Regions from separate parts of the Homo sapiens genome. Here regions 2 and 3 are each linked to region 1. The links come from fine-mapping of genetic effects on gene expression. A gene starts in region 1. Each other region holds a variant in brackets. All regions are shown on one strand. Distances are from middle to middle. Region 1 holds the start of TM2D1 (TM2 domain containing 1). Region 2 overlaps TM2D1 (TM2 domain containing 1). Region 3 holds the start of LOC107984964 (a long non-coding RNA gene).

What was found.
Region 2: its variant is fine-mapped to the expression of TM2D1 in whole blood (TOPMed, PIP 0.98).
Region 3: its variant is fine-mapped to the expression of TM2D1 in whole blood (TOPMed, PIP 0.95).

What each region holds. Positions count from the first base shown.
Region 1 is chr1:61,720,281-61,731,107 of GRCh38, forward strand. It overlaps TM2D1 (TM2 domain containing 1), which reads right to left and starts at 4,861. Exons shown (of 7, transcript NM_032027.3): 1 at 4,677-4,861; 2 at 3,433-3,506. The coding sequence starts at 4,840. RefSeq lists enhancers at 4,163-4,850, 4,307-5,506, 4,543-5,202, 4,851-5,536.
Region 2 is chr1:61,674,162-61,684,988 of GRCh38, forward strand. It overlaps TM2D1 (TM2 domain containing 1), which reads right to left. Exons shown (of 7, transcript NM_032027.3): 6 at 9,256-9,385; 7 at 6,885-7,189. The coding sequence ends at 9,275. Among named protein-coding and RNA genes, the nearest start is that of TM2D1, 46 kb to the right of the region's middle. The variant CAT/C (reference allele first, on the strand shown) is at 5,337.
Region 3 is chr1:61,636,562-61,647,388 of GRCh38, forward strand. LOC107984964 (a long non-coding RNA gene) reads left to right here and starts at 547. Exons shown (of 3, transcript XR_001738095.3): 1 at 547-587; 2 at 680-747. RefSeq lists enhancers at 5,143-5,192, 5,403-5,452. The variant A/G (reference allele first, on the strand shown) is at 4,788.

The sequences.
Region 1 (10,827 bases):
GCCCAGGCTGGAGTGCAGTGGCGTGACCTCGGCTCACTGCAACCTCCGCCTCCCAGGTTCAAGCAAGTCTCCTGCCTCAGCCTCCCAAGTTGCTGGGACTACAGGCATGTGCCACTACGCCTGGCTAATTTTTCTATTTTTAGTAGAGACAGGGTTTCGCCATGTTTGCCAGACTGGTCTCAAACTCCTGACCTCACATGATCCGCACACCTCAGCCTCCCAAAGTGATGGGATTATAGGTGTGAGCCACCTCACCCGGGCTGACAGAACACTTCTTGAGGGCAGGGATTATGTCTTCTTTTGTATATCACCTATACCACCAAGCAGATGCCTGCCACGTAATAATTTCTTAATAAATAAATATAAATAAATGAACAAATTCTCAATCAATAACAATATTTTGTAATATAAATTGTCTTAATAAAGTAAATTTAGTTTTAAATTATTCATTACCAATAAATACTTTCTCAATAAACAAATGCACTTATTGAATGATACTGAGCTAACCAAGAACCATTTTAAGATCACATCAATTTATTGTCATAGATGAATTTCCTTTGCCTTTTGTCCCAATTCCTACTCACTAGCCCCAAACTCCCCTCTGTAAAACACTGCTCACGTTCATCCCTACCCAAACATTAGTTTATGAAAATTGAACAGCCAGGTGTGGTGGCTCATGTCTGTAATCCCAGCACTTTGGAAAGCCAAGCAGGTGGATCGCTTGAGCCCAGGAGTTCCAGACCAGCCTAGGCAACATGGTACATCCCATCGCTACTCACCCCTCCAAAAAAATACAAAAAATTAGCCAGGTGTAGTGGCATGTACCTGTAGTCCCAGCTACTCAAGAGGCTGAGGTGGGAGGATCTCCTGAGCCTGGGAGGTGGAGGTTGCAGTGAGCTAAGACGGTGCCACTGCAGTCTAGCCTGGGTGACAGAGTGAGATCCTGTCTTAAAAAAAAGAAAAAGAAAGAAGAAAATTAGGCTGGGCTCAGTGGCTCACACCTATAATCCCAGCACTTTGGGAGGACGAGGCAGGTGGATCACCTGAGGTCAGGACTTCAAGACCAACCTGGCCAATACGGCGAAACCCTGCCTCTACTAAAAATACAAAGATTAGCTGGGCATGGTGGTGCACGCCTATAATCCCAGCTACTTGGGAGGCTGAGGCAGGAGAATCACTTGAATCCGGGAGGCAGAGGTTGCAATGAGCTGAGATTGCGCCACTGCACTCCAGCCTGAGCGACAGAGTGAGACTCTGTCTCAAAAAAAAAAAAAAAGAAAAAAGAAAAAGAAAAGTAAACATAGTTTGAGAATTTCACAATAGTTCTTCATATACTCAGTGAAAAAAACAAAGGAAAAATAATTTTGGCTGGAAGAATGAGAGAGATCACTTAACTCACACTTTTCACAACTCTTAATATTTTTCTCCTATGTTAGAACCAAAAAGCATGTTTCATGAGCTATTTTGATATCTGTCTCTGATCAGGAGTTAGAATTGATTCACCATAGTTAGTCCATGAGCTTTTGTGTGTTTTAAAAAAGGCAATTAGCCAGGCACAGTGGCTCATGCCTGTCATCCCACCACTTTAGGAGACCAAAGCAAGAGAACTGCTTGAGCCTATGAGTTCAAGACGAGGCTGGACAATATAGGGAGACCCTCATCTCTACAGCTAAAAAAAAAAAAAAAAAAAAAAAAAAAGTCAGGGAGCCAGTCCTGGTGGTTCATGCCTGTAAACCCAGCACTTTTTTTGGGAGGCCCAGGCAGGCAGATTGCTTGAACCCAAGAGTTTGAGACCAGCCTGGGCAACATGACGAAACCTTGTCTCTACCAAAAATACAAAAATAAAATAAAATAAATTAGCTGGGCGTGGTGACGCACACCTGTAGTCCCAGCTACTCCAGAGGCCGAGGTGGGAGGATCACTTGATCCTGGGAGGTGGAGGTTGCAGTGAACTGAGATGGCACCACTGCACTCCAGCCTGGGTGACATAATGAGACACCCAGAAAGAAAAGTAATAATATATGCCTTATAGAGGAGATATTGCTTAGTATGTATACATTTATTTTATTTAGATATATTACGCTTAAAGAAACTTTTTCCGCCCCAGAGACAGAGTCTTGCTCTGTCACCCAGGCCAGAGTGCAATGGCGCGATCTCGGCTCACTGTAACCTCTGCCTCCCAGGTTCAAGCAATTATCCTGCCTCAGCCTCCCGAGTAGCTGGGATTACAGGTGCCCATCACTGCACCTGGCTAATTTTTCTACTTTTAGTAGAGACGGGGTTTCACCATGTTGGCCAGGCTGGTGTTGAACTCCTGACCTCGTGATCCACCCGCCTTGGCCTCCCAAAGTGCTCGGATTACAGGTGTGAGCCACCATGCCTGGCCATTTAAAGGAACTTTGTAAGTAATCCTTTCCTTTGTAGTTAACTTATAAATATCCTTTGATTTGCCTGTTTTACACTTTGAAGTTGTTTATATCATAGTTTTCAGAATACAGAATAGAGTTACACATAAAGAAGAGTTAGTTCTCAAATAGTTGTTTCAATCATTCATATGAAAGATGCTAGAAATCTGTGAATACTAGTGTAACTCAAGCATCTCACTTCATACTGGGAAGCTGGCAGCCAGCTGTCTCAAAAATAAAAATAAAAAAAGTATTTTTCTCGCCTAGAGGGTTGTTTTGTATATATGGAGATTTCAAAGGAAATGACACAACTAAAAAGAATTTCTATCCCAAAAGAAGTCTGCCCTCCTGCCCTCCAGTTAGGTGTCCTCTGGAATAAAATGTTGAATCCACTTAAGAATTATTGATAAATAAATTCATAAACATGTAAAAAATCATTTTGGTGCCAACTGAATGTTAAATACACACACATAAACACATACCCCAAATCAAATAAATATAATCAAATATAAACCAAAGTAATATAATCAAAGTAATAGAAATGACATTTATCAAAGTGACATAAACGATAGTGATGAAGTTGCTGGGAAGCAGAAAGGACTTGTAGGTATTATGGCACTAGCCAAGAACTATCAGGTAAGTATTCATAGATGATATAAGTGGAGAGCTAAAGGAAAATAAAAGGAAGACTTTCCATGTGAGGGAATGATATGCTTATTAATTTGGGGAAAATAAAGTATATAAAATATAAGTACACTTGCCTAACTGAATCTGGGAACATCCACGTCCAGCCCTATTATTGTTTATATGGTGAAATTTCACCATTTCAGAACAAGTAAGATTCTTTTTTAAATTAAATACTGACAACCTCTAGGTAGTTCTCCAGTTTTAAGTTACTCTGGAAACTGAATAATAATGTTATCATTTAGAAAAAATGCATTTATTAATTGCCTTTAGTGATCATACATTGACCTATGAAATAATGTTTTTAAAATTATTTTTAAAGACATGTTTCTTGAAGTCTTACCATGAGCTGTGTAGTTTGTACAGTTAACTGGTTCTTGCGTAGCGTCATTTATTTTTGGATCTTTACAAATATATGTAAAAAAAAAAGTTAAGGAAATACGGACTACATTCCAACACAACACATTATCATGCCTTTACTATTCATATTATATACTCATGTTGATATTCACATGTAAATAGAGGCTGCTAGTTTGTCCAAGTCAATAAGCATATGTACAAATATACTTTTAGTATTGCTAAGTAATACTTGAGGCAGGAGGATCACTGGAGCCCAGGAGTTTGGGAAGAACAGCCTGGGCAACATAACGAGAAGTCTGTCTCTACAAATAATATAATAATACATAAACATTACAATAAACCTTTAAATTTGCCCCATAATTATCCACGTTTTTACTCATGAGAAAACAGAGTTCAAATAGGTCACCCAAGGTTGCAAAGTGCAACAGAAATTTATCCACTGAGTCCCCACGCGGTGGTTCATGGTGAGGGGGATGCGGATCGCTTGAGACCAGGAGTTCAAGACCAGCCTGGCCAACATGGCGTAAACCCCGTCTCTACTAAAAATACAAAAATTACCCGGGTGTGGTGGCGCATGCCTGTAGTCCCAGCTACTCAGGAGGCTGAGGCAGGAGAATTGACTGAACCCGGGAGGCGGAGGCTGCAGTGAGCTGAGATCGTGCCACTGTACTCCAGCCAGGGCGACAGAGTAAGACCCTGTCTCAAAAAAAGAAAACAGAAAGAAATTTGTCTGGCAGTCTACCATCTCATGAAGTTTGAAGATGACATGAGGTAATATGCATAATATACATAAAGTTAATGATAAATGGGCAACACATTGGCTAGATCGTTATTACTTGTCTTCCCCCTAGGAAGAGTTGGCAAACATTTCCAGGGTAAGAGACTATCCATCTTTGTATTACTAGTGTCTAGAACGGGGCCTGGCATACTTCAGGATCTACATGTTTTACTGAACAAGTAAGCACACTGATAAAAAAGAAAAAAAAAGTGGATCAGAAGAGGAAGCGCCAATGACTAGTAAAATCATAAGGAAATCACAAAGGGTGGCCTCTGGCCCTCCCATCTCCACAACTCTGTTCACCTTCAGGGATCCTTCAGTCATTAGAAGCCACAGATCAGATTATCGTTTTCACTCAGTACAGCCCTAGCCAGTCCTGACGGCAGCGACCCACCTGCGACCCCAACTCTACCTCGCCTCCATGGGGGGGTGTTCTCCACAGAGGATATTGTCCCACTTTGAGGTCCTCGCACTTAAGCGACTCCTCGCCCCCGGCGGAGGTGGCAACAGCCCCCCAGGGTCCTGTAGTGACTGAGACGAACCACAGGACACCAACGAGTCTGGCCGTCACGGCCTCCGGAGCAGACGGACCAGACGGCCAGGCGGCCGCCATCTTGGAGACCGACACTTTCTCGCCACTTCCGCTTCCGCCTCCGCCCAGGAGCGGGAGGGAGAAGGGCAACAGGGCGAGGTTCTTAAAGGGACCTCGCATAGGATAGAGGCCAGTTCCGTCTCTTCGCGTGTTCTTCTGCCCGTGAGCCCGTGGAATCACATTGGGAGACCCTTTTAAAATATGCATGTACCCAGTCCCTCGAGGCGAATTTTCCCCCACGAACCCTTGGAAGGAGCTAAGGTTAATCTTTGAGTGCTGGAGGAAGGAAACGAGTGGTTTAGGCAATCAGGTGCTTCACCCGCTTCTCATTCCCGCGCCCTTAGCTGAGGCTTCTCGGTCCTCTGAAAGTGCCAGCGGCGTCAGAGGTTGGAATCAATGCTTTCCTGACATCATCGCAGTTAGCCCTGATAGGTTTTGGGTTTACAGATAAGGAACAAGGCTCAAAGACGCTGAAACACACTGACCTTAATCACTAAGTGACTCAGTCGGAATGAAATTGATGTTTGCCAGATTTCAGATCTATGCTCTTACTAATTGACATAATGTCCTCCTGTAACTTTAGAGAAGGATTTTGGAAGGCTGCCACGAACAGAACTTAAAAACTGTGAGAGACATTACGCCTTTTAAAAAAAAAAAGTGACAATTTAGGTGGGGGATAATTTGGGGGGTGGAAACTGTAACAAGAGGAAACCAAATAGTTTATGATTAAGTGAAAAGTTGAAGATTTTTTTTCCTCCATCTGTTGTTTTTAAATTTCTATATGTTCTAAAAGTTCTGTGGTGGGGAACTTTAACAGTGAGGAAAAAATGTTTTCGTAAAGTTAAGTTTAATCTTTTTTTTGTCTAACAATATAAAAATTTGAACTTGAGTGGTGCTTCTTCATCCATACTTTAGCACTAACTTTGGTGGTTCTCAAACTTTGAATAGCATCTGAATCACCTGTAGTAGTTATTAAAACAGAATGATAGAACCGGCACTCAGAGTTTCTGATACAAAAGATGTAGGGAGGGACTGGATAATTTCCATTTCTAGGAGATCCCAAGGGATGTGGGTGTTGCTAGTCCAGGGACCCCCACTTTGAGAACACTGGTATAATGTTTTACGAGAAGTAAATTTTTTTTTTTAAGATGGAATCTCTCTCTGCCACCCAGGCTGGAGTACAGTGGCAGAATCTCAGCTCACTGCAACCTCTGCCTTCTGGTTCAAGTGATTCGCCTGCCTCAACCTCCTGAGTAGCTGGGACTGCACGCGTGCGCCACCACGCTCAGCTAATTTTTGTATTTTTAGTAAAGACAGGGTTTCACCATTTTGGCCAGGCTGGTCTCGAACTCCTGGCCTAAGTGATCTGCCCGCCTCTGCCTCCTAAAGTGCTGGGATTTCAGGTGTGAGGCCACACTGTGCCTGGCCTCATTTTGGAATATATATTCTGGAAGACATACAACTATTTGAAGTAATATTTAAACATAAACTACGTTTTTAAATTTTCTTTTTTTGAGGTGGAGTTTCACTGTTGTTGCCCAGGCTGGACTGCAATGGCATGATCTCGGCTCACTGCAACCTCCGCCTCCCAGGTTCAAGCTATTCTCCTGTCTCAGCATCCGGAAAGGCTGGGATTACGGCGCCCACTACCAGCCCAGCTAATTTTTGTATTTTTAGTAGAGACGAGGTTTCACCATGTTGAGCAGGCTGGTCTCGAACTCATGACTTAAGGTGATCCACCCGCCTCTGCCTCCCAAAGTGCTGGGATTACAGGCGCGAGCCACGGCGCCTGGCCCTAAAATTTTCATAATAAAACAACTTTGTAGCATTACTATGCTTTATTCATTCATTCATTTAGAGACAGAAATGGAGTTGAGACGGGAGTTTTGCTCTTGTTGCCCAGGCTGGAGTGCAATGGCACGATTCTCGCTTACTGCAAACTCCACTTCCCAGGTTCAAGCTATTCTCCTACCTCAGCCTCCTGAGTAGCTGGAATTACAGCCATGAGTCACCACGCCTGGCTAATTTTGTATTTTTAGTAGAGACGGGGTTTCTCCATGTTGATCAGGCTAGTCTCCAACTTCCGACCTCAGGTGATCCACCCGTCTGAGCCTCCCAAAGGTCTGGGATTACAGGCATGAACCACCACGCCCCGCTGCTATTTTTTGAGATGGAGTCTCGCTCTGTCATCCAGGCTGGAGTGCAGTGGCACGATCTTGGCTCACTGCAACCTCTGCCTCCCGGGGTCAAGCAATTCTCCTGCCTCAGCCTCCTGAGTAGCTGGGATTACAGGCGCACGCCACCACGCGCAGCTAATTTTTGTATTTTTTAGTAGAGACAGGATTTCACCATGTTGGTCAGGCTAGTCTCGAACTCCTGACCTCGTGATCCGCCCGCCTTGGCTTCCCAAAGTGCTGGAATACAGGCGTGAGCCACCGCGCCCCGCCGCTATTTTTAATTTAAGACATTTATACATAATATTTATGCTTTAAATCAGGTTTAAATGATTTAAGTGAAAAATTTAGTAGTTCAGTTATAAACTTCCTATTCTAAATGGACTTCTTCCTTCTCTCTTTTTTCTTCCTTCGTTTTTCCTTTCTTTCCTTTTTTTCCGTCCTCCCTCTCCCTCCAAAAAGGAAAAAAAAATTGTTTTTAATTGAGCATTTACTATGTACTCAGCATGAAGCTAGACCCTAGACTCAAAAATTTAGACAAAAACCCTGCAGGTAAGCACTTCCTGTTTGGTAAGGGAAAATACAAACAGTTAAATACTATTTGATAAGTGTTTGATAATTGTTACATTAGAAGCACATACTAGCTACTGTAGTAGGACAATGGGTTTGCTTAAGATATTCCTCCTGTGCCTGGCGTGGTGGCTCAAGCCTGTAATCCTAGCACTTTGGAAGGCCAAGGAAGGCAGATGGCTTGAACAAAAAAAAGAAAAGAAAAAGAAACATTTAAAAAAGATTCTCCCAAAATAGTAGTTGAAACGCTATATTTTTGTAGGATACATGACTGCTTAAAAAGGTATAGCCTAGGGCTGGGCGCAGTGGCTCACACTTGTATTCCCAGCACTTTGGGAAACCAAGGTGGGCGGATCGTGATGTCAGGAGATCAAGACCATCCTGGCTAACACGGTGAAACCCTGACTCTGCTAAAAATACAAACAATTAGCCCGGCGTGGTGGGACGCGCCTATAGTCCCAGCTACTCCAGAGGCTGAGGTAGGAGAATCACTTGAACCCGGGAGGCGGAGGTTGCAGTGTATAGCCTAGAAAACGAACCTTTAAACTTTTACTTAGGCCAGGCGTGGTCACTCAGCCTGTAATCCCAGCACTTTGGGAGGCCGAGGCAGGCAGATAACCTGAGGTCAGGAGATCAAGACCATCCTGGCTAACGTGGTGAAACTCTGTCTCTACTAAAACAAAAATTAGCCCTGCGTGGAGAGGGCGCCTGTAGTCCCAGCTACTCTGGAGGCTGAGGCAGGAGAATCGCTTGAACCCGGGAGGCAGAGGTTGCTGTGAACCCAGGTCTGCCATTGCACTCCAGCCTGGGTAACGAGCTAAATTCCGTCTCAAAAAAACAGATAAAAAAACAAAAAAACCTTGAATTTAAAAAACAAAAACCGGCCGGGTGCAGTGGCTCATGTCTGTAATCCTAGCACTTTGGGAGGCCGAGGTGAGTGGATCACAACGTCAGGAGTTCGAGACCAGCCTGGCCAATATGGTGAAACCCCGTCTGGAGTAAAAAAAAAAAAAAGTGCAAAAATTAGCTGGGCATGGTGGTGGGCGCCTGTAGTCCCAGCTACTCGGGACGCTGAGGCAGGAGAATCGCTTGAACCCAGGAGGCAGAGGTTGCAGTGAGCCGAGATCATGCCACTGCACTCCAGCCTGGGCGACGGAGCGAGACTCCGTCTCAAAAACAAGCAAACAACAACAAAGACAAAAAAAAAAAAACACAAAAACCAAACAGAAAAGCTAATCAAATGTACAATATACAGCTCAACACCATCCCTCAGCCCTATTCTGAGATGAAATTTATGACATGGTTACGAGGCAAGGATTAGGTAAAATCTGGCCAGGCACGGTATCTCACGCCTGTAATCCCAGCACTTTGGGAGGCTGAGGCAGGCGGATCACCTGAGGCCAGGAGATAGAGACCAGCCTGAGCAACATGGAGAAACCCCGTCTCTACTAAAAATTCAAAAATTAGCCAGGCATGATGGAGCGTGCCTGTAGCCCCGGCTACTCAGGAGGCTGCGGCAGGAGAATTGTTGAACCCGGTAGGTGGAGGTTGCGGTGAGCCAAGATCACACCATTGCACTCCAGCCTGGGCAACAAGAGCAAAACTCTTCTCAAAAAAAAAAAAAAAAATCTGTCAAAGGCAAAATTACAACAAATTCAGTTATATATCTAATTAACTTTTAGTCACAATTCAAGGAGTGGGGCAGCCTTCATTCTATACACTAGAAAGAAAACTCCCGCTGGGCAATAATAAAACACTGGGTTTTGTAAGGTGGGAACAAAGAAACAGCAACAGAAAAATTCGCGGTTGGAGGCTGGGCATGGTGGCTCCCCAACACTTCGGGAGCCCAATGTGGAAGGATCACTTGAGTCCAGGAGTTTGAGTTCTAAGACCAGCCTGGACAGCATAGACTCCATCTCTACAAAAAGCAAAAAATTGCCTGGGCATGCCTCTAGTCCTAGCTACTAAAGAGGCTGAGCCTGGAGAATCAGGTGAGCCCAGGAGTTCAAGGCTGCAGTGAGCCATGATTGTGCCACTGCACTCCAGGCTGGGCAATAGCACAAGTCCCTGTCTCCAAAAAAAAAGTGGGGAGGAGGAGGGAGAGGAGGAGGAGAAAAAAGAAAAAGAAGGGGTTTGTAGGGTTTTTTGTAAGGGTTAAAGCAGAGGGGACTTCCTTGTTATGGAGACTCAAGTAGACTGGAATCTCCTGCTTTCAGGAAAAATTGGTCTGTTTGGGGATCTATCTGCTTCCTTAAACCTTCAGTTGAGCATGTGGCTTTTAGCATGAGTGAATCCATTTTGGTTTGATCTGGTATTTGGGGGCCTAGTGCAGGAGCTCAGTTTGAAACAATGGCCTCCCATAATTTTTGTTTAAGAAATCCAAGACTAAGGATCAGAATATCTGTTACACATATTACCTGGTAATAAAAGACAGTAACTTTGCATTTTGACTACCATTTTGATGCTTTTAGAATGTTCTGGTTTGGAATCTATAAAGAACTTAAACAAATTTACAAGAAAAAAAACAACTCCATCAAAAAGTGGGCCAAGAGTATGAACAGACATTTCTTAAAAGAAGATATTTATGTGGCCAACAAACATATGAAAAAAAGCTCATCATCACCGGTCATTAGAGAAATGCAAATCAAAACCACAGTGAAATACCATCTCACGCCAGTTAGAATGGCGATCATTAAAAAGTCCGGAAACAAAAGATGCTGGAGAGGATGTGGAGAAATAGGAGTGCTTTTACACTGTTGGTGGGAGTGTAAATTAGTTCAACCATTGTGGAAGACAGAGTGGCGATTCCTCAAAGATCTAGAAACAGAAATACTATTTGACCCAGCAATCCCGTTACTGGGTATATACCCAAAGCATTATAAATCATTCTACTGTAAAGACACATGCACACATATGTTTATTGTGGCACTTTTCACAATAGCAAAGACTTGGAACCAACCCAAATGCCCATCAATGATAGACTAGATGAAGAAAATGTGACACATATACACCATGGAATACTATGCAGCCTTAAAAAAGGATGAGTTCATGTCATTTGCAGGGACATAGGTGAAGCTGGAAACCATCATTCTCAGCAAACTAACACTGGAACAGAAAACCAAACACTGCATGTTCTCACTCACAAGTGGGAGTTGAACAATGAGAACACATGGACACAGGGAGGGGAACATTACACACTGGGGCTGTCAGGGGGTGGGGGGCTAGGGGAGGGAGCGCATTAGGAGAAATACTTAATGTAGATGA
Region 2 (10,827 bases), 46 kb before region 1:
GCCATTAAACTCACCCTTGAAGAATAGCTAAAGTAAACTCTCCAAACAGAAAGAAAGTAACAGGATAAGGCTGGGAACTTTGGAAATTAAAAGAACAAGAACAGAATGGATAAATATTGGGTAAATATAGCAGACTAACTTCCCTTCATAAGTTTCTTACATCATATTTGGTAGGTGAAGCAAAATTTTTTTGTTTACTTGAGGCTGAGTCTTACTCACTCTGTCTCCCAGGCTGGAGTGCAGTGTAGCATGATCTCGACTCCCTGCAGCCTCCGCCTCCTGGATTCAAGTGATTCTCTTGCCTCAGCCCCTGGAGTAGCTGAGATTACAGGTATGAGCCACCGCACCCAGACAAAAATTTTTTTAAATAGCCTACAGGTGCTACTAAGTGAGGCAAAATTTGTAACACTATCTGATGTGGTGGTGCTCAATATATGTAGAGGAAATACTTGAGACAATTGTATTTTAGAAGTGGGAAGCACAAAGGGACCTAAATGGAAGTAAGCTTTCAACACTTAAAGAGGCAAAGTGTTGACACCAGTAGACGGTGATAAGTTATGTATTTATATTGCAATGTCTAGAGAGATCACTAAAAAAAATTATGTGGGGCAATATGCTCGAAAGCATCATAGAGGAAAATTAATTTTTTCAAAGTTCAAGTAATGCCCAGAAGGCAAAAAGGAAAAACAGAAGAATGAAAAACAGAGGGAGGAAACAGTAAAGAAGTAATAACATGGCAAACTTAAGCCTCAATATATCAATAATTAATTTAAATGCAAGTGGCCTAAATACACTAATTAAAAGACAGAGATTAGCAGAATAGGGGAAAAATGATCCAACAATATAACCGCCTATAAGAAACTCACTTTGAACATAACAACTATATTAGTTTCCTATTGCTGTTATAACAAATTACCATAAACTTAGTGGCTTAAAACAACACATATTTATTATCTGACAGCTCTGGCAACAGTAGACTGGATAAATATTTTTGACACCTTCATACAGTGGAATACTATACTGTAATAATGAGTGAAAGAAGCCAAACACATGAAGTTCAAAAACAGGCAAAACTAATCTATGGTGATAGACTCACAGAAGAGTGATATCCATGAGGGGTGGATGCTGACTAGGAAGGAACACTATAGAATTTTCTGGAGTGCTAGACATGTTCTTTATCTTGAACTGGATGGTGGTTAAATGGGTGCATACATAGGCAGAAACTTATCAAGCTTTATACTAAGATTTGGGCATTTTATACATGCCTCAATATAATATTTTTTTTATTTGTTTTGAGATGGAGTTTTGCTCTTGTTGCCCAGGCTGGAATGCAATGGTGCAATCTCGACTCACTGCAACCTCCGCCTCCTGGGTTCAAGTGATTATCCTGCCTCAGCCTCCCAAGTATCTGGGATTACAGGCATGCACCACCACGGCTGGCTACATTTTTAGCAGGGACGGGGTTTCACCATGTTAGTCAGGCTGGTCTAAAATTCCTGACGTCAGGTGATCCACCCGCCTCAGCCTCCCAAAGTGCTGGGATTACAGGCATAAGCCACTGCACCCAGAATATTCTTTTTGAAATGAAGCCATTAGGCTTTTGTAAGATTGTCTTTCCTTTTTGATGAAAAACTCCAGTGGGGAAATTATTAAAACATGAGACAGATATATGGCCAGTTGAGGGCATAAAAGGGAAGTGATATTGTATAGTGATTAGGAGGACGGGCTTAGGAGTCACAAACCTGGTTTTAAGCATCATTTGCTGGCTGTGTAATCTTAGTCAAGATATTTGATCTCTCTAACCTTCTTTAATTATGTATATAATATGGATATATAAATGGCTGTACTGACCTTGTAGGAGCATTGGAAGTACATGAGATAAAAAATACAAAAATCTTAAAAACAATCAGTTATTAAATACCTACCATGTGCCACACACCGTGGAATATATTACTTAACCCTATGACAAATGCATGAGAAAGATACTAACATGTCCATTTTAAGAATGAAGAAACCAAGGGCCTAAGAGTTTGGTCATAAGAAGTGACAGGTGTGTCTGATCCTAAAGTCCATGAATTTAAGCATTACCCTTTATGGCATACTTGGATGAATAGGTGGGTGGATATTAAAAAATTGAATCAGAAACTAGCCTGGGTTCCGCAGAGGGGCACAATATTTAACTAAAGCTTCCGTTAACGTATTAAAGGCTAGCCAATGATATCTATAGCATAAAAGACCTTTATCACTGGAAGGGAAACTAATCGTCCTGTCTCACGGGGTGATTATAGGGATTAAGTGAGATAATCAGGTCAGGAGAGTACATAGCAAATAATAGGCAATTTAGTAGCTTCCTTTAATTATTTCTAATAATCTACTCCCTGATCTTCTCTCAGGAACCACCTCTAGAAACCACCCATTCAAAGAGAGAATTTTAATGTTTATAAAATATTTGAGCAGAGCCCTGACTGAGGAAGCAAGTCATGTAACAACGTGGGAAAGAGAACTCCAGGCAAAGGAAAGATTAAGTAAAAAATCTTGAGGTAGACTGGGCGTGTGGCTCACACCTGTAATCCCAGCACTTTGGGAGGCCAAGGCAAGTGGATCACTTGAGGTCAGGAGTTCTAGACCAGCTTGGCCAATATGGTGAAACCCCAATCTCTACTAAAAATACAAAAATTAGTCAGGCATGGTGGCATGTGCCTGTAATCCCAGCTACTTGGGAGGCTGAGATAGGAGAATTACTTGAACCCAGGAGGTGGAGGTTGCAGTGAGCCGAGACCATGCCACTGCACTCCAGCCTGGGCAACAGAGCAAGGCTCTGTCTCAAAAAAAAAAAAAAAAAAAAACACTTCAGGTAGAAATTGGTCTGGGTGCAGTGGCTCATGCCTGTAATTCCAGCACTTTGGGAGGCGGAGGCAGGAGGAATGCTTGAGGCCAAGAGTGCAAGACCAACCTGGCCAACATAGTGAAGCACTGTCTCTATGAAAAAAAAAACAAAAAGGAATCAATATGGCATATTTGAAGCATGACAGAAGCCACTGGAGAATAGGCAGAACAGTAGCATTTTCTCATTTATTTTTATCTCTTTGGCTGCTGTGTGGAGAATATAGTGTAGGAGGACAAGAGCAGAAGAGGTGCATAGTAGGTCAATAAATAGTTGAGAATTAATAAACAATAAATTTGCTTCTTTTGAATACCTTTTAAAAGGTTCAAAACACTTTTTTTGTGTGTGTGTGTGAGACGGAGTCTCACTCGGTCGCCCAGGCTGCAGTGCAGTGGCGCCGTCTCGGCTCACTGCAAGCTCCACCTCCTGGGTTCATGCCATTCTCCTGCCTCAGCCTCCCGAGTAGCTGGGACTACAGGCACCCACCACCATGCCCAGCTAATTTTTGGTATTTTTAATAGAGACGGGGTTTCACCGTGTTAGCCAGGATGGTCTCGATCTCCTGACCTCATGATCCGCCCGCCTCAGCCTCCCAAAATGCTGGGATTACAGCCGTGAGCCACCGGGCCCAGCCTTCAAAACACTTATTAAAAACAACTTTTGTTATGTCTTGAACCATTTCATTCCAATAGTTTGCCTCAGTGACAAATCACACAGAGAAGTCATGCCATTCTCCTTAATGTTTCTCATATTGCAATAATAGGTGAATTTCATAATCTATTCAGAATTAGTCGAATCTTGAGGTTTTTCTAAAAATCAAAGATAGGATCTTGAGCCTTCATAATCATACCTTCTTAAACACAAAATTAGCTCACATGATAAAAAGTTCCAAACACCACACTTGCTAGAGTATTCTGGTAAAACGTTTTTCTTTGGCATATGCAGCCCAAATAGCTCTATCCTTAATCATTTTTCAAGTTTTAATCTCCACATGCTTGGCATATTCTGATAACATTGACAGGTTAAAAGCAACACTGTTGTATGCATAGTGATTGCTTGCAATTAACCATAATTTAGGCTGAAAGTAGGCTGATCAGCTGCCTCACAGCAACATTTTAAAACTTATTAACTATCTCCAGCGAACTTTAGATGAAAAAGCAACAAAAACAAAATCTGTAACATTTCGGCTTTTTCTTACATAGAGTCTTAAAAGAGTGAAGGTGCCAATAAGACTAATTCTTCATAAAAAAAAAGACACTTTTGGCCCATATTACATCCAGTAACTACAGATACGGATAAAGATAATAAGAAAAACAGGTAAACAATGTCCAAACGAAGTGTCTTACCCTCCTTTTGTAAAAGAGACTTTTGAGCCCACTGGCATTTTATTTAAGAAATAACCATGCTATAGCCCAGTTGTGCAGAACCTCTTGCAAGTTCCAGACAGACCTCACCAGTACTTGATGCCATTATCCCATTATTTTAAAATGTGTTCAATACATAATTAGTATCTGCCACTTAATCTTTCAACATTACCTGACACGTGTCACTACCTCTATTTATATGAAGACAGAGGGATTAAGAATGGTTACGTGCTCAGTCACAAATTAAGGGATGAGAAACAGAATGCACTCAGGACTCAGAATAAGTCTATACTTTTATCATCCCATGCTGCTTGGATGCCAGACCTCTAATATGGCATCCTACCTTTTCCTTTTAAATGTATCTATCAGGTGGGGTGCGGTGGCTCATGCCTGTAATCCCAATACTTTGGGAGGCCACGGCAGGAGGATTGCTTCAGGCCAGGATTTCAAGACCAGCCTGGCCAACATGGTGAAATCCCGTCTCTACTAAAGATACAAAAACTAGTGGGGCGTGGTGGCACGTGCCTATAATCCCAGCTACTCAGGAGGCTGAGGCAGGAGAATCGTTTGAACCCGGAAAGTGGAGGTTGCAGTGAGCCAAGATTGTGCCATTGCACTCCAGCCTGGGCAACAAGAGTGAAATTCCATCTAAAAAAAAAATAAAATAACCCCCAACCAATATTTCTTTTATACTCTTGGCAGTTCCATGAACAAATGCTGGCCACAGACATAACAGAATCTTTGAAGTAAGGAATATTTCTGGGTAAATAGGTACTTCTGGAAATTATACCAATCCTTTAGGCAAAAGTAGTATCATTTGTACATCACTGCTACAAGGCACTAAACATCTCTATAGGATTGAAAGAATCCTTTCCATTCTGCCTTAAAAGGATTTAGCAGTAATAAGGAATGACTGAGCTAATGCATCTCACAATTTTGGTCACTCATATAAAAGCAGGTTTGACATATAAAACATCTGATAGAGAGGGTTTAACATATAATTCATATTCATACACACTACTAACAAATTGTCATAATAGTGCTCAGTGAAAGAAAAAAAGCTGACAAATAGAATTTAAATGCATTCA[CAT/C]GAGTTTATTAAAAAATCTGTTAAAGAATTACGTATTAGGCAACAGAATTAGGCAAACTAGAAGTGTTCTTGTCATGCAAATTCAGGAAACTAAAGTGAAAATAAAGTCTAAAGGCTTAATAATGTGTTGTGAAGGGACTTTGTTTCTATGCTTCATCAACAACCCTTTAAGAGTATAGCTTATTTGAACAAATACTTTTTAGCATCACCTGCTTTGAAACAGACTTACTACCTGGCCAAGTTAATGACTATAGCTATTATGCAAGGATCAAGATTACTTTCCAAAATTTGACTGCAGGTTCTTTTTTTTTTTTTTTTGAGACAGAGTCTCGCTCTGTCACCCAGGCTCGAGTGCAGTGGCACAATCTCGGCTCACTGCAACCTCCGCCTCCAGGGTTCAAGTGATTCTTCTGCTTCAGCCTCCCAAGTAGGTATTTCTTATATAGTTGAACTAACCTGACTGTGGAAACATGACTTACAATCTGGGCTTAGATGATACCGAAGTAAACTACAAAGCACTGTCTGCAACCTAAAGGAACCTCAGGGACACTAGAAAATGAGTATCTACCAACTAGTTTAACTGTGACCAAAAATATCACGGTGAAAAAGTAAGTTCCAAGAGAATATAAGCTTCTAAAGGGCAGGGATTTTGTTCACTCCTGCATCCCCCCATATAGATCAGGCCTCCCACTCAGTAGACAATCAAACTTGTTCAAACGTCTCTTTGAACAAATCAAAGAGATGTTCCTGGTGTACACTGGGGGTCAACCCAAATTCATTTCATATATTAATATTTAATAATCTCCCACCAACTTGAGAAGCTATTGAATGATTTACATGTTATGAAGCTAATTATACTATACTGTCCACTTTTGAGGAAAATGTGTGACAAAAAATTATGGTTTTTACTCTTGAGGAGTACCGACACTAGTAATTTTGAAATTGGTATGCCTGTTACTGAAGAAAAAGTGGGATAGTATTCTGGGGACATAACATTTCATGTATTTCCATCTTCTTAAAACCCCTCTAAACATGGTAAGAAAAATCAGTGCTAACATACAGGTGCTGCTTTTTTCAGACACTGGTACATCACTTAAGGCACCTGTGCCGGCATCTGCCTGGTGGTGCTCACAGATGGAAGACATTAATCATCTGTTTGGTGCTCCCACCTTGTCCATCCAGCTTCAAATATAACTGCGGTGAGCTAGATGAGTCAGCATCTGGTCTTCCAAAAGCTAGTGTAGCACTCCCAAAGCAAAAAAGGAAGAAGTTCACACCTCAGAGGCCTGAATCAATGCCAGAAGTGTACATGTTGCCTCAAAGTTTCACAGACTCCCTAATGATCTTTAGCTCCCTGGATACCAAGGCAAAGACAGATCTGAAAGCTGCAGAAAAACAGGTGGGTTGTCATACACAAGACTGAAGCCCCAGGCAATATAAATGGTATTTGTTCACACCATGGATTAACTGCTTTGAAGGATCAAAATGGGTAAGACAGCTACATTCAACATTTAAGAAGATTTTCTCAATAACAAAGCACTAAAAATGTGAATAAGTTATACTTTTATTTTTCAGAAACAAAAATGACAAGTGGCAACTTGCCTTTGTAAAAGATTAAAGAGTATCAGAGTAATAAGCTATCTCTCATAGAGACAGAAGCCCGAGAAACACTATTATACAGCTTTCAAAGGAAGTCCTATTAAATAAATCTCACAATAATATACTTTAACTCAACAAAACAAAAACCACAAAAAATTATACAGAACTCATAAAATGGTATATGAATGAAAAAGAGAAATCTTTAAATCCATACACTAGAAGTTCTCTATTAAAATCAAGGAGGCTCAAATCCTAAAACAGAAAGAAGAAATACGTTAAAACACAATATTTTTTAAGAGTCCAATGAGGTTATTGCAGATGTACATTTTAACATTTCATTTGCTCAATGTATTTTTTTCTCATTCTTGGAGCACTTCTGTATAATGTAGAGAGATTACATGAATGATAATGCAGATACTGGCCTTCTCAATGGGCCTTTCAGGTTTTAAGTTTCAAATCTGAATCTGGAATCCCACCTAAATGTTTACATAATAGGCTACCAAGAATGAGATTCCTCTTAAAATTACATTTGCTTAATTTTTACACACTATGGTTTAGAAACAATCTACTTTTGAAAGAGACACAATTTACAGTATGAATAATAAAAGTTACATGAAACTACACAATCCTTCTCATAAAATAGGAGAAACAATTTCCAAAACAAAAATGCCTAATACAAAATGATACAGTTGACTGGAGCTGGGGTAGGATGGGAGGAAGAGAACAACCATGTGACAGAATGTATGGAAGACCTAGATTCTAGTTTCAGTTTTGCACTAATTAGTTGCGTATCTTACTCTCAACTTCCTTAGGTCTTGATTTTTTTCCTGGTAAGAAGAGGTAGATGGATCTCTAAGCTTTATTCTAATTTTAAGGCTCAATGACTTACAGTTTATAAGATTTGGAAAACCTTTTGGACAATCAGTTGAATAAATTCCTTACATCTTGAGGGTGTGTCACTGTTCAATCCCATGACAATAACTACAAGGCATATCCATAATTTTACTGTTAGAAAAGAAAAAAATCCACCTAAAGGGCAAAAGTATACTTCATATCCTGTTTCTGTTCTACAAGACAGAAAACAAATGTCTATTCTCTTGCTGGCCTCTAGAAGCAGTCCTTTGAGATAGAGTTGACTGAAAACCCTAGAACAAGGATAATGGTTAAGACATCTACCCTGTCTTTCTCTCTACCTGTCTGTGTCTATGAAAGCTTCTAGACAGCTGCTAGACAGCTCAAAGTGAACTATTACATAAAAACTACCCTTCACCCTACATGATATATAGGATTTCTCTATTACAGAGAATCATTATACCAGGAAATGGTTTTCCTGATATTCTACCAAAATCCTGAGTAAAAGTTTGCATTATTGGAAGATTATTAGAATAGACTAATGTATGGTAATTGAAATTTAAAAAACCTTGTAGTAGCAGAGTCCTAGAAAACCAGAGAGTTGAACCAGGAAAAAGGATGGTATCTCTGACTTCAGCAGGTTTATCACTTATTTAAAGCTGAGGCCAGCCAGGCACAGTGGCTCACGCCTGTAATTCCAGCACTCTGGGAGGCCGAAGCAGGTGGATCACCTGAAGAGTTCAAGACTAGCCTGACTAAAATGGCGAAACCCCATCTCTACTAAAAATACAAGTTACCCGGGCATGGTGGTGTGTGCCTGTAGTCCCAGCTACTGGGGAGGCTGAGGCACGAGAATCGCTTGAACCTGGGAGGCAGACGTTGCAGTGAGCCAAGATTGAGCCACTGCACTCCAGCCTGGGCAACAGAGCAAGACTCTGTCTCAAAAAAAAAAAAAAAAAAGAAAAAGAAAAAGATAAAGCTGAGGCCAATAATTCTTACAGCCAGAGCCAAACTTTAGGTTAGAAGAAGCACTTACAGGGAATTCAGGCTTTGGACTCTTTCAGTATCTATTTTCAGTTTCAGGGAAGGAGAAGCAAAGAAGGAAGTTAAAGATTATACTGACCCTTAGAGGGATGGGCAGCAGAAATATCTGCTATATTGAGCTATTTACGGCACATACTTTCATCATAACCATCAAATAATAAATGCCTTTTTGCTTTGATGTTACTTTTTTCTTGTGAACTTTGTCCTTTAACCATATGCACTGCAAAGAGTCTGAAGTGGGAACCGAAGGAGCCATGAGCGTGGACTAAAATGCTTTTCAAAGGATTGGAGATGTTTCAGGCATAGGGGTACCTGAGAGGTTTATACGGTTTCTTAAAATTTTCTATGGTCCTAAAATTCTCATAATTTTATATGAATAATATACCACTATAAGATATTACATATATATATATATCACTTACTGTTTCTTTTAAAAAATATTTATGGATATAATTGCGTTTTTCTAAATGTTTCATTAGTAATACTCAGTCTTGTAAGTCTGGTTCCATAGTAATCTATAATGTAACTACTTCCATCTGAAGGTCCAACAATCTAGAAGAGACAAAATTTCAAAATTATTCATTTTACAAAAGATATTTCACAGCACTTTGTTTACTTTTCTCAGTTGTTAATAAAAGTATTTCAGAAGCAACAAAAATCCAGCTCTAACCTAAGCAAAAATAGGTAATTTAGTGGCTCATGTAGCTAAAAACAACTACTGGGATATACTGGGATAGCTCAAAGGATCAAAAGAAAAGCTACAGGAACCAAGGACTGAATTCTGTGCTCCCTGAGGCCCTTGGCTTCCCTGCCTCCTTGCTTAGCTCTGCTTGTCTTCATTCTGCAGAGTGGCACTCTAACTAATTGCCAACAGCTCTAGAGTCACATATTCCCAGCTCAGCAGCTCCTAATACAAAGAAAGTAAACTTTTCTTCCCCAATGTTTATATACCAATTCCAGGGAAAGACTTTTATCGATCTGCTTGGTTTTTATGCGTACTGTGGACAAACTACTATATCCATGGGAATAGATTTAATATGATTGGCCAGGCCAGGCTGCCTGTAGGAGATGAGGTTGTATCATTGACAGTCCTGCCAGAACCACCTGGAATGGAAAAGGAAGAGGTAGAAAAAAACAACACATGTTCGCTACAATCATCTTGTCCACTTAATCACATATGTGACAATCTAGTTAACATAATCTCTATAAATTACCCTCTAAGGTAGCAATCTTCAAACTGTAGCATTAAAGGTGGACAAAGATTTACCAAGGTGTATGTGGGCCCAGAGGAGAAATCAATCCTGAGAGCTTAATTCCCTAAATACTCTTTGTAAAACAAATTTGCCTGATACCATGCTACACTGGAAGCATCCTACCAGTTTCCCTTCCCACTTCTCCTCACTGTGGTCATTTCTCCCACTTGTTAACAGTAAAGCATACCTACCATCCAGGATACCCCGAGTCTTATGATGGCATATTTCCCTGAGGTGTGAAAGCCTCTGAAGTGCCAAACAAAGGGATAGCTCAAAATATTGGATTTAGGGAACTATCCTTTACTCAAAGGTCCAAAAATACATTCTACCGTATCTGTTCCAAAGATGCATTTCCAATAACATTTTACATCTTTTTGTTTAAAAATAATTTGCAACATGTTTATGCTGTTTTGATCAACTGTGTATCATTATTATAACAAGTTGATCCAAACAAAAAATCACAGAAAATTTTTAAATATTTTAATTTTAATGAATAAGATGATTCGCTAGAAGTTTTCTCTCTTTCATTTGTTTGTTTGTTTGTTTTTTGATATAGGGTCTCACTCTGTCATCCAGGCTGGAGTGCAATGGCATGATCTTGGCTCACTGCAACCTCCCCCCCGGGGCTCTAGCGATCCTCCCACCTCAGCCTCCCAAGTAGCTGGGACCACAGGTGGGCGCCATCACGCCCAGCTAATTTTGTTTTTGTATTTTTTTGTAGAGACAGGATTTCACTATGTT
Region 3 (10,827 bases), 84 kb before region 1:
TTCTCTACATTCCAGATTCTTTATCGTTTAACTTTATTACAGGCAAGCAGAGCTTGGTCCGTATTAGAGTGACAAAGACTATTTCCTTAATTACTGTACAGAGATAATAGCATTTATTCTGGCAGTTCCCGTGTTATTCAATCAGGCAAGATCCAATACAAAAAAAAGCTGATTTGCCAAAAGGGAGATTAGCATAAGTGCCTACAGTCACATTCTATTTTTTGAAGTTTACGGCTTTCAGGGAGCACTTCTTGTTGGAAGTTCTATTTAAAAATTATGGAAGGATTATGATACTAGTGTCCACCTGATAGAGGAAAACAAGGAAGGCAAGTGGGCCATTTTAGAAATCACAACTGTTAAGCTAATTGCAATTTTGAAAGTAAACCTAATGGTACTGCAGAAAACAAGAAGAACGACTCTAATGTAATCCTGGCAGCATTGTGATTTCAAACTGCTAAACCATGCAATGTATTTACTTTTCCTTTGTGTGGGCTTGCATATTTACCTTCACCAAGGATATTTCTCTGTTTCGTGGTTATACATTGCAGCACTCATGACTGATGAATTATTGTCAAGGACAAACTAAGGTTCTTGCTTTTTACCAAAACGACTTTTTATAAAACACAAAACTTTTCCACAGGGGAAATGCAGATTTAGCATTATGCATTTTCGTTAACAGGTTTAACAGGATGGCCTACTACAAATGGTGAATAAAATGAGAGCAAACTTGGGAAAGCAACTGCAAAGGTAAGATTGAATTAAGGGTAAATATATGCAAATTGTCCCAGCCCTAACGCTGTCTTCTGAGGAAAATGCCAGTGCTACTGATTATTTTTTGGAATTTAAAATGGCAGTCACCCAATTGTTTTGCCCTTTACTGCGATCACTAGAAGGAAATACTTCTAACCCAACCCAAAATGTCACTTCTAAAGAAAAAGTATGTACATATTCCCATAATAACCATAAAGCATGGGAATATTTTGTTTTATTTTACTTCTTTATCTTTTCAAGCTGTTAAGACTATTTCTTTTTTGTTTTTTACATTTTTAAGATACATATGGGGTCTCACTATGTTGCCCAGGCTAGCCTCGAACTCCTGGGCTCAAGCAATCCTCCCATCTTGGCCTCCCAAAGTGCTGGGATAACAAGCATGCACCACCACACCCTACATCCCCAACAAACCTCTTCTAGGGTTCCTTGTAATCCTATCTACAGTATCATCCAGAAATTCTCATTGAGTCCATTTCAACACCTGAAAAGACATGCGATGTACAGGTACTTCTCTGTAATGTGATACACATCCTCTTGGTTAAAGGGTTTTAAAGTATCTCAGGACTTAACTTACAAATCTCATAAATAAATACTGTAGCCTGAGTTTGGCCTCAAAAAATAAGAAAGGATACATAAAAGAAAAAAAGATCTGATGGAAATAGGGAAAAAAATTATTATTTGTTAATCCTGAGTGGTGGGTACAGAGATGTCTGTCATTTTCTGGTTTTCTGTATTGGAATGCTTCATAACTTTAAAAATTGTTTTTCTAAGGCCAAGAAAAGCTAAAGAAGTTACCAGGTGCTCAAATTCTAAATGAAGAAACGAGAAGGACTAGGGAAAATTGCACTGCATTTTTCTTTTTCGGGGTAGTAAATTGAAGAAAACGCTGAACTGCAGTTGCATTGAAGGGACAATGATCTAGGGGGTCCCTGGGAGCAGTATTCCTATTCCATTGAAGGAGGTGAGCCAAGATACTTATAAGCTCTAGAGAACCTTTAACACAGGAAGCTATTTATCATAACAAGCTTGGTTGATACTGTTCCCATACTGAACCAATTAGGTTCGCCTATTTCGTCATACTTCATAACTTGGGATGATAGGTTTCCAAGTATGGTACAGTGTAGTAATTGAATTTTGATCAAACACACATGGCCCATAACCCACTATGTGAAATTTTCAGAACAGTTCACAGCTTTTAAATATCCAGTCAACATGTTGCCAAAAGTACAGGATGTACTTGATGCAAGGGGGAGAGAAAGGGGAGGGCTGAATCTTGGTAGAGTTGTAAAACAAATATTTTTGTTCTTGTTCTCTTCTTATTTTTCAAATAGCAGTGGGGAAAGGCCATGGGATATCATATCAAAACTCAAGTCTTCCCCTTGCTTGTTCCATGTGCGTAAACATCCTTAAGTCTCATTTCAGATCAGCATTTTCTTTTGCATGAAACTATTTTCACGTCACAGGCCTGTTACACACGACCTGCTAGCATTCTCCTTCCAGCACTATCCAAAAAGTATTTCTTGACAACCTACTATATGTTAGATACTGGGTCTCCTGGTAAACTCTTTTGAACAAAGAGACATGATCCCTGCCTTCATTTGATCTACTGTGGATGGAGAGACAGACATAAAATACATAAAAACATCAATAATTTTTTATAATTGCAACCACTAATAAGTAATATGAAGGAAAAATAGGGCATCAGGAGTAACGATAATGGGGATGTGATTTATCCAGAAAGGAGGAAGTAGAAAGGAGAAGCATGGACTGCATTTCCAAGGCAGTGCCATGTATGTTGAATTCTGAAAGATGAGAAGTGATCCAAGAGAGTGAACGCTGAGAGAAAGTATTCCCAAAAGAAGTAGGCAAGTAAGCATATGGATAGGCCTTGAAGTAGGCAAGAGTTTGGCAAGTTCAAGGACCTGAAGTCTAGTATATTCAGTGAGAGAGCCGCTAAAAAGATACTGGGGGCCAGACCACACAAGGCCATGCAAAGGATTATGCAAAGTGCAGTCACTGAAAGCTGGTAAGCCAGGGAATGACATGATGGGAGGCAGGCAAGACTAGAAGCAGAAAGACTAACTAGAAGGCTTTGGCAATTGTCCAGCTGGGAAGTGATAATGGCTTGGAACACAGCAATAGCAAGGATGGAGAACAGTGGGCAGATCTGGGAGATATTGTGGAGAAGAACTGACATGATTTGGTGATAACTGGATGTGGGAAGTGAGGGAGAGGGAGGCTCCAAGGACATTTTCAGGTTTCTAGTTTGAATGACTTAATGAGTAAAGTCTAATGAATAACAACTTGTTAGTATAATCCGCAAGACTACACCAAAGCAGTAGGAGAGCTACACAACTTTCACAAGCTCCCATGTCTGCAGGAGTGCTCTGCTCTCTTTGGATTCTGTAGGAACAGAGGCATCAATCAGGTGCTGGGAATACAGAAATTTTCCACCAACGTGCTCATCAAACTTTCCTTTACCGTAAGCCAAAAGAATGTCTCTGAGCTATGAACATCAGACTTTAATATAAACTTTAAAATCTTACTCTCAGCTCTACGGACATGGTTATAGGTGTCTGGCAATTGAACTAGGAGAGCCTGAAAGTAAACACATTGTCTCTTGGAAATTGATGAAAAAACCAAGCATGTTTCTTTATTCATTCAAAAGATTTTACTGAGCATCTTTAGCCTGAGAAGTAGGAGGTAAATTAGACGTGTTCCCTGCCTGGGCAAAGAGTATATTCTATTAGGGGAGAAAGAGGCATACCAAGATGTGCGTAACACAGTTATGCAGTACGTAGTATGTTACATAGATCTAGCAAGACAGCGACATTTAACAGATGACAGGGAGGGGGTGGAAATTCGGTGCATGGGCACGGCTATGAAAGATTTCAAAGAGGCTGTATTTGAGACAAGCCTTGAAAGACCAACAAGAGTTTACTAAGCAGAGAAGAGGATGGGGGAGAAATTCCCAGAGGAAGAAACAGCACAAGCAAAGGCACGAGGGTCCTGAAGAGCACTGGGTATTTGGGGCTAAAGGGTAAAAAGAGCAGGGTATCTGATTCCAGATTAAAATGTCATCCCTCTATTCTGAAATCTGAAAAATACTAGCAGCTTGATTTGTCCACAGTCACTTGTGCCAGGTAGAGAATCCTAATTCGTGTAGGCCCAAACCAACAAGAACCTCTTGATGTGACTACTGCCTGAGTATTGCAGTGTTCGTGGGAGCTTTAAGTTTACCTATCCAGATGGGAGAACCTCTTTCCCGAAATTCATAAGCAGTCCCACAACTCCGCCAATGCTACAGGACCCAGCTTTCTGAGGCACCTAGAAAGACATGGCAGTGGCCCAAGGTGATGCTTAGGTGGGCTGGCGAATGCACACAATAGAATGTCTGTCTGTGACATTTAATCTCACTCTGGCAAACTGGTGCAGCTGCCCTTGTACAACAAACGGGAAGGCACAGTGAGTGACCACCACCAAAAACAAACAAAACAAGTGTGTGCGTGCGTGTGAGCTTTAAAATTTAATAGCTATTCAGACAGTCCTTAGAGAAGGAATTGGCAGCTTCGGCCTCCAAGACTGCTCCCCCACCTGTCTCCAGGCACTGCAAACACAGCTGTGTAAGAAGGAGACAGTCAACGCTTCCAAGGAAAGAAATAGTGCAGTCTTGGGGGTGGGGTGATGATGAGAGCACCTTTCTCACAAACCCACGTGGGACAGGGCCTTGTCTAGCAACCGCAAAAATAATCGAGCAGGACGTGGTCAATCAAGCTCTTTATAAAACCTCATGTTAAGTAAAATCATTCAAGATCCAACTCAATGGCCACCTTAAACCCATGTTTTAAAAGCATGAGACAGAGCACACAATTCATGCTCAAAGGAGAACGAGGTAGCATGCATGCTGGCAAGACGCGCATTCAGGTTTGCTCCCGGTATCAAGATGAGACGTAAAGACGATTTATGCACTGTCATAGAACTTGTAGTTCCTCACACAAAACACAGAACTTCCTGGG[A/G]AAGTGCCTAGAAACTTCTTTATCTGTATTTCCCCAGGCTGCAAAGTGCACACATTTTTAAAGTTCAACTCTTAAAAAAAAAAAAAAGTCAGCAGAGGCAAGATTTCAACAGACGCCGGTCCAAATGTTAGCAATTCTAGAGTGGTCAGGGGTTTGCCGCTCCCAAAAGTAAGGGGGAAATTAGAAGAAGGAAAGAAGTCGTTTTCGAAGACGAAAACCAAAGCAAGGAGGTATTTTTGGTATCATTTTAATCACAAAATAGCACGAATGCGGTCTGTGCCTGTGCGCTACCCAAACGTCGATTTGAATACCACTGAACGCTAGTTTGAAAATTTCCATTTTTGTAATTTGCTTTCTTTTGTTAAGCCAAGACTTGAGAGAAACCTGGCAGCCGTCTCTAAGTCTGGCACGATTTCACCTCAGACGCACTCGGTTGGTTTGGATGTTGAGGGAGACCGCACATGAGAGAGGGAGAAGGAGGAAAAGAGAGCTGGAGAGCAAACCTACCGCTCGGCGGCCGCCGCAGAGAGCAGGCCCAGGGCTTCTCAGCCGGGGGATCTGGCTCCACCTACAGGAATCAGAAGGCAAACCTAGTAGACGCCTCGGCGTCTGCAGGAACCCGGTGGGGGCTGGGGGAACTTTGATAATTGCCTAGAGAATTTCCTAGCCAGTAGGAATGGGGGTCGGTAGAAGTGGTAAGGATTGGGAAGCAGGGATTTCCATGACCAGATTACCCACAGTCATATCAGATTCAGCGATTCTTATTTGGAGGAGAAAAGGTATCATGTCACCTCCTATGACCTAGGAATTTTAACTGGTTCCAGGTAAACCCCATTTGAAAGCAAAGGCAGCACCTGGTCCCAGGACAGGCCCAGCACATAGCATGCTCAGGCAATAACATTTGAATGAATGAATGAATGAATGAATGAACTGAATAATCCAATCTATCAAATAACAGAAACCTAATATGATAAAAAGAAAACCAACCCCCAACCCCAACACTGTTTTTCAGGTATATGTATGAGTTGTCAGGCATTTTTGATGGCTAGTAATTACTACAAAAATCCTGCACCATGTAGGCTAGTCGTGTTCCACCTCCGATGTGCCAGAGCAGTGATTGAGTACCACCGATTTCATCCCATGCCCTCATTTGCCAACGAATAAACAGAAGCTTGAAGAGGTTAAATGCCTTTTCCCAGGTCAACCAGTTTGTTGGTGACAGAACTGGTTTGGGGCTAAATTTTCCTGACCTGTCTGGTATTTGTTTTCTAAGGGCAGGAGACTCATTTTGCATTGGCCTGCTGGATGCCCTCAGCCGATTAGCTCTCACAGGAGGAAGTTAGCTTCCCCCACCCACCTGTTGGCCTGTCCCTGGGCTTCTGCCCCAGCTTCTGCTCTGGGCCACAGCCTCTGCTCATGCTGCTCTACTCCAAAAATCAAACGCTGCCTGGAGCTAATGCCAATGGTTGCTAAACTTATGAATTCATTTCCTAAAGCCTGAGGGACAGAATCTTTGAGCCTGTGGTTTAGTAAGCTACAAACAGGCAGGTGCTTTGTTTTGGCAACACAGGTGTCTTATATACAATATCTCCTCCATCTATTTACCCAAAGCACTTAATAAGCAGTTACTGAGTTTCCCAATGATAGTTATAGAAGAAGATGTTATTTACCAATTGAAAAGGAATTTTTGCCGTAGGCAGTTAGCACTCAGTTTCCAGATGAAAAGGTGAAGATCCTTCTGGGAAGTGAGATGCTGTGTGCATTATGTGAGATGAATATGATCCAGGGAAAGATAGCAATTAAGCAGATCCAGATTCTTTTTTTTTTTTTTTTTTTTTTTGAGATGGAATTTCACTGTTGTTGCCCAGGCTTGAGTATAATGGCGCAATCTCGGCTCACCACAGCCTCCACCTCCCGGATTCAAGTGATTCTCCTGATTCAGCCTCCAGAGCAGCTGGGATTAGAGGCACCTGCCACCATGCCCGGCTAATTTTGTATTTTTAGTAGAGACGGGGTTTCTCCATGTTGGTCAGGCTGGTCTCAAACTCCCAACCTCAGGTGATCCACTAGCCTCGGCTTCCCAAAGTGCTGGGATTACAGGCGTGAGCCACTGTGCCCAGCCTAGCAGATCCAGATTCTAACCACAACCTGTCTATAAAATGGAACTAACACTGTCATGACCTCTGAATGGATTAAAAATTAATCATTATTATTAATCACAATATTAATAATAATGCTGAACTATTACTAAGTGCTTACTACATTCCAGGCTTTCAAATGACCACTTTACATGCATTGTCTAACTTATCCTCAGAGCAACCCCATGCGAGTTATAATTATTACCCCCATTTTACAGAACAAGAGAACTGAAGCTCAAAAGGGTTAAAATACTCACCTACAGTGACAGTTTACAATGGTAAGGCTAGTGGTTGGATCCCAACTCCTATCTGACTCGGGACTTCAAAACATTATGTAACACAAGAAATGCCTATTAGCTGATTCTATGCCAGTGGCATTCAAATATCAATCTCTAGTTCTGAGCTTTCAAAGGAACTCTGTGCTTCTATTCCCAAATGCTGAAAGAATATCATTAATTATATATTCCACTACTGTCTCAAACTTAAAAGGGCCTAAGCCAAACTCTTTCCTTCCTTTCATAAGCATTTACTGAGAACCATTCATGTTCAAACCTCCATGGTTTGGAATCTAGGGCAGTGGTTCTCAACTGGGGGTGATTTTGCACTCCAGAGGACATTTTATAATGTCTGGAGACATTTTTGGTTGTCACCACTGGGGCTTTGGAGTGCTACTAGCATCTAGTGAGTACAGGCCAGGGATGCTGCTGAATGTTCTACAATGCACACAGTAACTCACCCCCCAAAAGAATTATTTGGCCCAAAATGTCAATAGTTCTGAGGTTGAGAAATTCTGGTTTAGGAATACAAGGATGAATTAGATAGCTAAAACCAATCATCTGATGTAAGAGATATACATATAAATTTTAAGCACGAATTTTACCTAGATATCTGTGTGATGACAAGGGGTCCATCAAGAGCTATGAGGTTTATTATGGGCTGGAGAAGTCTTAGTGGAGGAGGTGGCACTTAAGCCAGGCATCAAAGGAGAGATAAGATCTGGATTCTGGATAAAAAAGAACAAACAGTGTGCAGGGTGTGGGTGTACATGAAGAATGTTGGTTTATTTTAATTGGAGTGGAGGAGGTGTGAAGAGGAGTAGTAGAGAAACGGGGGTAATATTTTGTTGGGGCCAGACCAACAGGCCTGAATGCAAAGACAACTTCGGACTTTAGGTGTAAGTAATAAGAAGCGATCTAACATTTTCACATGGGGTGTAATATGATCACAATGTTCTAGGGAGATGAATCTAGCAGCTGAATAAAAAATGGATTGCGGAGGGTAAGGAGCTGGAGACAAGAAGACATGTTATAACACTATTGCTACAGATTTTGCTATTTTAAAATAAACCACTTGGCTATTTTTGTTATTATTAGTACCAAACAATAACTGAGTGATTACTGTGATTTAGGACCTAAGCTAAACACAATATATATATAATCTTACTTAATGTTTCTCACTTTCATAAGGATTTCCCCATTATATAGATAAGGTAACGGGGTCTTAGACTGGATAAGAAAGTGGCAGTCAGTTTGGAGTCAAGCTCTGACTAACAAAGCCTTTGCTCCTTACTGCTTTGTGTGCTGGGCACATGGTCTGGATTCTTAACCTCTTGATCAAACCAGACTGTTCTCATTTATAAGGTGGGCAATAAAACCAAACAGCTCAGACCCCTACTGGGAATGGGACGGTCTAGGACAAACAGCCTCGGGAAATCTGCTCCTCCTTGGAGGCTGGAGCTAACTGTAGGGATAAAAGGAGTGTTTCTCTGGGCTTTGCCGGGTGTGGGGAGCATAGACATATGTCCTATTACAAATACACCTACATAATAGCTTCCTTAAGTCTATTTTAAGTCTATTCCTCCCAAGGAGATGGAAAGTAAGAGTGAAAACGGGCACAATCTGGGACATCTGAACAAAAAATCAGACTTCTCATGTCAGGCCTCTCCTGCCATGATGAGGTTGCAAGCAGGGGATATGAAGTGGGGAATAGAAGGGCTGTGACTCCGAAATTCCTTGTTGACTTGGCTCCTGATCAGATTGCTAACTAGGTTCAGGTGTGAGCTCCAGTTTTGTTTCAGAGACTTTTGGGCACAGGCGAGGAAGGAGAGGAAAGGCATCAAATGTATCTGTAGGCAGAGTGGGTGGCAGCACTAGAATTGGAGGGTGTGCCAACAAAGGCATTGCCATACGTGCCTGCTGGCACCAAGTGGCAGTGACAGGCCTCTAGTGGGCCTGCAACTAGACTGTGTTTGCTGATCCAGGACTCCAGCTTTTGTTGTGAAAGAAGATTCATTACAAGGAACAAGAGAAGGAAAGGACCAAAACAGTGTCCACCACTGAGCACCCAAGGACCAATAAATGAATTACACGTGAGAACCTCCTTGAATTCTTCCAGAACTGTCAGATAGAAAAAGATGGTGGACATACTCACAGAGCAGACAGGGCAGAGCCAGAGAGACACTGTTTGATGGCCACCTCTGCTGTTCTACCTGACTCCTTCCAATGCAGGATAATCTTGAAACTATTTTGGAAAGTTCGTGATCTACAATTTAAAGATCAAGCACTGCAGAATTTCAAGATTCCAATTATTCTTTCTAAAATCCCACAAATTTAAAGAAACGTAAGTTCTTGCCACACCTCTTAGATTTTGACATTCTAATGAATATACTTTTAAAACAAATCAGGATACAGACTCCCTCTCTAGCCTTGATTTCCTCAAGGTCAATGATTAAATCTGCAGCACTGGGCTCAGGAGGTGCTCAAGAAGTGTCTGCCAGGTTTAACAGAGTGCAACGTTTGCCCAAAGCATCAAGAATATTCACTACATGAATTAATATAATTTTAATCCAACTTTTACTTTCACCTAGTTATAAAAAAATAACCTTATGCATCAATATGCCTATTTTCACACAGCCTTTGCCCACAGTCTGTAAGCTGTCCTAATACTAAGACCAAATGCCAATAAGCAAATGTTTTTTCCTTGAGAAAATATGGAAGAGGGAATTACACTAAAACATACTACTCAGAAGGATCTGTTCCACTGGTTTTGCTGGTAGAAGTGGCATAATTAGACCTCTTCAAACCAAACAGTGTCCTGAGAAAAGAGTGAAAACCAGAAATCCAGGTTCTCATTGATATGGCCTCTTCTCCATTCTGCTGCCTTTCATGAGCTATTCTTTACGGAATTAAAGCTTGAGACTAACAGCACTGCTATCAAGACATGAGGGTCTCTAGACAACTGGAAACATCCCTGGTCACTTCACACACCCCACACCACAAACTCTCTTGCTTGAATCCAACCTGGTAGATAACATATTACCCAACATTGAAGTATCAGGTTGGCTTTGAATCCCTATTGAATGTCTACTATGCATTCAGTGAGGAGTTTCAAGTTATAGAGATTAAGAAGAAAGGCCCTAACGTTTGGCTTATAAGCTAGTTGAAGAAAACACAGTGCATGCAGAACAGTGGAAGACAATATTCCTTCCTCAAACACTACTGAGTGCCTACTTTGAGCTAGGCCCTGTGCTAGACAATAGGGGTGCCAAAAGTAAATTGATTCCATTTTGTTCAATTCAACTCATTATTCATTTGGCATTTATTGATTGAATGCTCTTGTACTAGACCACTGCTTTTCAAACCTTAATGCATATGTAAATCACCTGTGGATTCTGATTCAGTAGGTCTGGGATAGAGCGTGGGAGCCTGCATTGCTAGCAAATTCATAGGGTATGCCAATGCTGCTGGCCTGTGAACCACACTTTGAGTAGTAAAGGACTGTACAATATCCTAGTCCCTGGCTATACAGAGGCAAATAAAATAGCCATGACCCCTGCCCTACTGAAGCTGATATGCTAACAAGGAATGTAAATATCAAACAAGGAAGTAGAGTCAGCGCTATAT